2 linked regions of the Homo sapiens genome follow. The gene in region 1 interacts genetically with each later gene. Each region holds a gene or a part of one and is shown on either strand. Other genes may lie near its edges.

Evidence for each region. Genes that interact genetically often act in the same process or in processes that back each other up.
Region 2: of XIAP (region 1) and CASP8, changing one suppresses a phenotype caused by changing the other (phenotypic suppression), as found in Homo sapiens cells (one study listed by BioGRID).

The regions. Positions count from the first base shown.
Region 1 is NC_000023.11:123,863,004-123,866,755, forward strand, and holds part of XIAP (E3 ubiquitin-protein ligase XIAP), read left to right. Parts: intron 1-3,752.
Region 2 is NC_000002.12:201,270,384-201,274,135, forward strand, and holds part of CASP8 (caspase-8 isoform 2 precursor), read left to right. Parts: intron 1-1,132; coding exon 1,133-1,238; intron 1,239-2,254; coding exon 2,255-2,393; intron 2,394-2,514; coding exon 2,515-2,559; intron 2,560-2,719; coding exon of another isoform or gene 2,720-2,817; intron 2,818-3,752. UniProt on the Homo sapiens protein: Thiol protease that plays a key role in programmed cell death by acting as a molecular switch for apoptosis, necroptosis and pyroptosis, and is required to prevent tissue damage during embryonic development and adulthood.

The DNA.
Region 1 (3,752 bases):
ACCTGAGCCTTGGGAGGTGGAGGCTGCAGTGAGCCATGATTGGGCCACTGTACTCCAGCCTGGGCGAAAGAGTGAGACCCTGTCTCAAACAAAACAAAGAAACAAAAATCTGAATTGTAGACTCTTTGTAGATAAGAACATATTTTTTAAAAAAGTTAAGACTAGGGCCAAGTGCGGTGGCTTTCACCTGTAATCCCAGCACTTTGGGAGGCTGAGGTGGGCGGATCACCTGAGGTCAGGAGTTCAAGACCAGCCTGGCTAACATGGTGAAACCCCATCTCTACTAAAAATACAAAAATTAGCTGGGTGTGGCGGTACACCCCTGTAGTCCCAGCTACTTGGGAGGCTGAGGCAGGAGAACCACTTGAGCCCATGAGGCGGAGGTTGCCGTGAGCTGAGAACGCAACATTCAACTCCAGCCTGGGCCACAGAGTGAGACTCCACCTCAAAAACAAATAAAAAGTTAAGACTAAAACAGTTTATAGTGATTAGGAGTTCAGCTGTCTAGTTTTGTTTTTGTTTTGAGATGGAGTTTCACTCTTGTTGCCCAGGCTGGAGTGCAATGGTGCGATCTCGGCTCACCTCAACCTCTGCCTCCCAGGTTCAAGCAGTTTCCTGCCTCAGCCTCCCGAGTAGCTGGGATTACAGGCATGCGCCACCACGCCCGGCTAATTTTGTATTTTCAGTGGAGACGGGGTTTCTCCATGTTGGTCAGGCTGGTCTCAAACTCCCGACCTCAGGTGAAAAAGTGCTGGGACCTCAGGTGAAAAAGTGAGTCACTGCACCTGGCCCAGCTGTCTCGTTTTTAGAAATAGATTAAGACTCAAAAAAAATATTGCCCACCGTAATATATCTGATTATTAGCAAAGCTTGGACTAGAGTCTAGGTTCTAGTCTAGTGGCCCTTGTACTATACCTGTAATTTTATTGCTTTCTAGTGCATTGGATGATTCCAACTAGGCTGACAAAGTAATAATATCTAAAGGTTAGCCAGGACCATTTCAATAGTTAAGAATTATTATTTTTTTCTTTGGTTTTTATTTTATTTTGTCTTCCTTTTTTTTTTCATTTTCAGGAAGTGAGCAGTTTCTCAAAATTATTATAATTAATGGACCAGCTAATTTGTATAGTGCTTAAAATATTTTAGTAACATAAATTTTACTAAATAAATTTACTAATTTAGTAAATAAATGTTCTCCTTTTATTTCATTGTAAACATTAATTTCTTTAGTAAATCCTGTATTTATATTGTAAATGTTTAGCGATAAAATAATGATATTTCACTGTTTTTGTTTGGTCTAATATTTAAGTCTGGTAGGTAGTATTAGCAGAGAGCAAAACCTACAGTTTATGAAATAAACATTCATTGAGCACTTAATGTGTTCCAGGCATTCATTGTAGTATGTGGTAGGATTCCAAGGATAAATATGGCAAAACAAATGCCTTTCTTCTGTTTTTTTTTTTTTTTTTTTTTTTTTTGAGACGACGGAGTCTGGCTCTGTTGCCCAGGCTGGAGTGCAGTAGCGCGATCTTGGCTCACTGCAGGCACTGCCTCCCGGCTTCACGCCATTCTCCTGCCTCAGCCTCTCAAGTAGCTGGGACTACAGGCACCCGCCACCACACCCGGCTTAGAGTGTGTGTGTGTGTGTGTGTGTGTGTGTGTGTGTGTGTGTGTGTGTTTTAGTAAAGACAGGGTGTCACCGTGTGTGTGTGTGTTTTAGTAAAGACAGGGTTTCACCATGTTAGCCAGGATGGTCGCATTCTCGTGTGTGTGTGTGTGTGTGTGTGTGTGTGTGTGTGTGTGTGTGTGTGTGTTTTAGTAAAGACAGGGTTTCACCGTGTGTGTGTGTGTGTGTGTTTTAGTAAAGACAGGGTTTCACCATGTTAGCCAGGATGGTCGCATTCTCCTGACCTCGTGATCTGCCTGCGTTGGCCTCCTAAAGTGCTGGGATTACAGGCGCGAGCCATCACACCAGGCCGCCTTTCTTCTTTTTTTTTTTTTTTTGCTTTTTTATGTTCGTCTGTTTTTATTTTGCTTTTGTGTGTTTGTTTGTTTTTCCATTGTTCTTTTGAGGCTGGGAGATTATCATGAGCTGTCAATTCTCAAGCTTTATCTCTGTGAGATAATCTGGTAATAGTTTTATAAAATGTAACCTGTTAGCACTATTAAAGGACATTGTGTGAGTAGATATGAAGAGACAAACAGTAGTGATAAGATAAAAAATACTTTAGAATTTAACAAATACTGTTTCTGTATCTTAGAGGTCATGTGCTACAGTGTTTGGAAAGAGCCCTACGTTGGGTACCACAGTACAGGTTATTGACTTTGTTTCCAATTAGCTGTGGGATTGTGCATGTCAATGACCCCATCTTTCTTTACATGTTCACATTTTTGATATGTTATTTTAGGTGTTGAATTCAAAACATAAAAAGGGTATTTTAAGGCCGGGCGTGGTGGCTCACGCCTGTAATCCCAGCACTTTGGGAGACTGAGGCGGGCGGATCACGAGGTCAGGAGATCTAGACCATCCTGGCACCCCTCTCTGCTAAAAAAAAAAAAAAATACAAAAAATTAGCTGGGCGTGGTGGCAGGCGCCTGTAGTCCCAGCTACTTGGGAGGCTGAGGCAGGAGAATGGTGTGAACCCGGGAGGCGGACCTTGCAGTGAGCCGAGATTGCGCCACTGCACTCCAGCCTGAGCTACAGAGCGAGACTCCGACTCAAAAAAAATAAAAGGGTATTTTGAATATTTTATTTTATTTATTTGTTTTTGAGACATTGTCTTGCTGTGTCACCCAGGCTGGAGTTCAGTGCATGATCCCAGCTCACTGCAACCTCCACCTCCTGGGTTCAAGTAATTCTGGTGACTCAGCCTCCCAAGTAGCTGGGATTACAGGCGTGTGCTACCACACCTGGCTAATTTTTTTTTTTTTGGTATCTCTTTTTTTCCCCTCGGAGACAGAGTCTTGCTCTGTCGCCCAGAGCTGGAGTGCAATGGCTGCGATCTCTGTTCACTGCAGACTCCGCCTCCTGGGTTCAGGCAATTCTCCTGCCTCAGCCTCCCGAGTAGCTGGGATTACAGGCGCACGCCACCACAACTGGCTAATTTTTGTATTTTTAGTAGAGACGGGGTTTCACCATGTTAACCAGGTTGGCCTCGAACTCCTGACCTCGTGATCCACCCACCTCAGCCTCCCAAAGTGCTGGGATTACAGGTGTGAGCCACCACACCCAGCCTTTTTTGTATTTTAAGTAGAGACAGGATTTCACCATGTTGCCCAGGCTGGTCTTGAACTCCTGACCTCATGTGATCTGCCCGCCTTGGCCTCCCAAAGTGCCAGGATTACAGGCATGAGCCACTGTGCCGGCCTTTGAGTATTTTAAGTTATAAAAGAAATATGTGTTTCTATATATATTATATAATATATATTATACATGATATATAATATATATGATATAAATTATATTATATACAATATATTATATATGATTAATATATAATATATGATATATCATATATAATATCAAAATATATAATATGTATATAATAATGTATGATATATATAATATAGTATATAATATATTACATGTATAATATATTATATATAATATATAATACAATATATGTAAAATATATATAATATATAACACAATATAATATGTAAAATATATTACATATATAATATATATATTTTTCAGACAGAGTCTAGCTCTGTCACCCAGGCTGGAGTGCAGTGGTGAGATCTTGGCTCAC
Region 2 (3,752 bases), on another chromosome or scaffold:
ATGTGTAACATGTCTAAAGTTAACACTGCTCAAAGATAGTGGAACCAAGGCTCCAACACCAATAGCCTGGGTCCGCTGAGCTCAATCATTGCACCTCACAACCCTCTGGGTTTATGAAAATAAAAAGGGTACGGACCTGGCCACTAGGGGACTTGAACAGTTTCTAAACAGACAATTATTTTCTGTTTTTATTTTTAGTGTGGTGGCATGATCACAGCTCACTGCAGCCTCAACCTTCTGGGCTCAAGTGATCCTCTCACCTCAGCTTCTGGAGTAGCTGGGACCACAGGTGCATGCCACCACACCCGGCTAATTTTTAAATGTTTTTGGTAGAGATGGGGTCTTGCTATGTTGCCCAGGCTGGTCTCAAACCCCTGGGCTCAAGTGATCCTCCTTCTGCCTTGGCCTCCTAATGCGCTGGAATTAGAGGCATGAACCACTGCACCAGGCCAACAGACAATTATGTGTGTTATCGTTTTGGGGTTACTAAGTCATAGTGGAGTGAATGCAGCTTTGAGGATGCTCAGGCAATGCTTGAGCTGATTGTTCATGGATGGGCCTCTGCAGATAGACAAGGGGATGGGGTGTAGCGGCACCACAGAAAGGGGTGAGGGCAGGGCAGCTGGGTGTGTTTGGCTTCAGGTCCTTTCGTGTTTGCGGTCTGGTCTGTGATAGGGATGTATTCGGAGACTTTGTATTCCAGAACCGAATGCTTGGCCGTCTTACTGAAGATAATGACTGGGAGAATACTGACCAGTTTTGATTAGGGAAGTCATGAGCCAATGTGCATTTTGAAAAGCATAATTTCCAAAAGGCAAAGCATTTTGCTATTGCAACAAAATCTCCATTTTACAGAAAAAAAAAAAGGAAAACAAGATTTACTCAACTGAAATAAACTGAAAGAAAAGTTGATAGAACTTTAAATTGTTAAGGGTGGGAAAGTCGGGGAGGAGCCAGTAGACTTCTGTGTCACCACACCAGCCTCTTTCCAAGGGCTCAACTCATAAACCATGCCATTAACTGGCTTTATGTTGAAGGGAGGCCTTTGGAATCAAGCCCACTGTGACTCCATATATCAAATGGGAAATTATTTGGGAAAAGATTTCTAAAGTGTCTCCATTTCCCACCACAGGGTCATGCTCTATCAGATTTCAGAAGAAGTGAGCAGATCAGAATTGAGGTCTTTTAAGTTTCTTTTGCAAGAGGAAATCTCCAAATGCAAACTGGATGATGACATGGTAAGACCTGGTATCTTACTGAGATTTAGTCCTGAGACTTGGTTAGCCAGGGGGCATTTCTGAGACCAAAGAGAGGGGTATTTTGGTAAAAGCAACCTGGATTCTCACTTTTTAACTAGAAGAAGAAAGTTGTCAGCACGAGTGTTACAGATGTGATTCCTTTAGACCGAAGTGCTGCTCATGTTAATTATTGGGAGCAAGGCAGAGTCAGAGGCCGGGAGAAGGAGGCTGTGCAGATGCAGCCCAGACCCGGCAGAGCTGGGAAAGACTGCGGTGGGTCTGAGATATTTCCTCCACTTCTGCAGTCCCCGAAACAACCTGGGACCTGAAACTCTGTGTGTATATTGTGTCTGTGTGTTGTGTGTGTATTTCCGTGTCTGTGTGTGCCTTTCTCTGTGTATAGTGTGTGTCTGTATTTGTGTGTGATATGTGTATCTCTGTGTGTCTCTGTATAAGTGGTGTGTGTGTCTGTGTATCTCTGTGTGTGTGTTCTCTGTGTGGTATGTGTGTCTGTGTGTTGTGTAGTGTGTATTGTATTTATGCCCCTGTGTGTGTATCACTGAGTATACTCTGTGTGTGTTGTATCTGTGTGTGTATGTGCATGTGGTGTCTGTGTGTGTGTGTCTGTGTGTCTGTATGTACTCAGGTCTGGAGAGGCAATGCTGGGGGTGAGGCTGTTCCCCAGGGTGTCACCATGATGACCGGGCTGCTGTCTCAGGTTGTTTCACAGTCCCCAAGTAATGCATTCGCAGGAGATTTGAGCACAGGGCCTGGGGACTGGGTGACATCTGACATGGCTTCTCCTTTATCCTCTCACTTCTGTCTTTCTGGGCCAGAAAACATGGAATCGCTTCCCTAGTAGCCTGCTGGCTGTGAGAGACCAGCAGAAACTGTCAGAAACTTGGGAAGCAAGGGCAGGTCCTTGGTTGGAGAAATTGGAAATTAAAAAAAAAAATCTAATCTAAAAACCAGTAGGGCTCAATCCAGATTCCCAACTTTATTTCTCCTCCTCTTAGAACCTGCTGGATATTTTCATAGAGATGGAGAAGAGGGTCATCCTGGGAGAAGGAAAGTTGGACATCCTGAAAAGAGTCTGTGCCCAAATCAACAAGAGCCTGCTGAAGATAATCAACGACTATGAAGAATTCAGCAAAGGTAGAAACAACCTGACAGCCGGGAATCGGCAAAACCTACTCTAAAATTGAAACTGACAAATCGCTCCATATCACAGTTGTTTCTAATCAAATATTGTTTGGGGTTTCCCCTTTTAATTCAGAGAGAAGCAGCAGCCTTGAAGGAAGTCCTGATGAATTTTCAAATGGTAATGCTTGGAGATACATTTTCAAGATTTAGTTAATTTACTATCTGGTACCTGCATGTGTCCTCCCCACAGCCTTCTACCACATGCACATCTTAACGTGCCTGCTCTACTTTTTCTTTTTTTTTTTTTTTTTGTGAGACAGTTTTACTTTGTTTCCCAGGCTGGAGAGCAGTGGCACCATCTCGGCTCACTGCAATCTCCGCCTCCCAGGTTCAAGCAATTCTCCTGCCTCAGCCTCCTGAGAAGCTGGGATTACAGGTGCGTGCACCACCACGCCTAGCTAATTTTGTATTTTTATTAGAGATGGGGTTTTACTATATTGGCCTGGCTAGTCTCAAACTCCTGACCTCAGGTGGTCTGCCTGCCTTGGCCTCCCAAAGTGCTGGGATTACAGGCATGAGCCACTGCGCCCGGCCGCACCTGCTCTCCTAAGACCTGTAGCCCAAGCTGGCAAGTTTGAAATAGGTGCAGAGTTAGTCAGTAGTAAGTAATTTAACATCATTTTTTCTATGTGGCTTTTTTTTTCTCCTTGACGTGCTGCTCATGTTATGCACTGAGTAGCTGGATTTAAATTATGTTTCATAATTTTCTTGGTTAAGTCACTTTCTCTTTCAACACCTTCTACACTAAGTCACTCCTTTCAACTTCCTTTCACTTTTTCTACCTGATAAGCGAGGCTGAACCAAGAGAGAGAGCTCTCAACGATCTCCTTCAAAATTTTGATTAATCAAATAGTCTTTTTTTTTTTTTGAGACAGTGTCTCACTTTGTCCCCCAGGCTAGAATGCAGTGATGCAATCTTGGCTCACAACAGCCTCGACCTCCTGGACTCAGATGATCCTCTTGCCTCAACCCCCTGAGTAGCTGGGACCACAGGCACAAGCCACCATGCCCGGCTAATTTTTGTATGTCTTGTAGAGATGGGGTTTCGCTATGTTGCCCAGGCTGATCTTGAACTCCTGAGCTCAAGCCATCCACCTACCTGGGCCTCCCAAAGTGCTGGGACTATAGGCAATTAATAAAGTATTCTTTCTGATTAGAAAAATTATATACACTAATTGAAGATTATTTTAAATTCAGAGAAATTTTTACAAGTCCAAGAACACCATCACTCCATTCATATTATGAATATTTTTATTGTATTTTTACGTTGGCTCTTTGTGGTGTGTGTGTGTAAAATACATTTTGGATCAC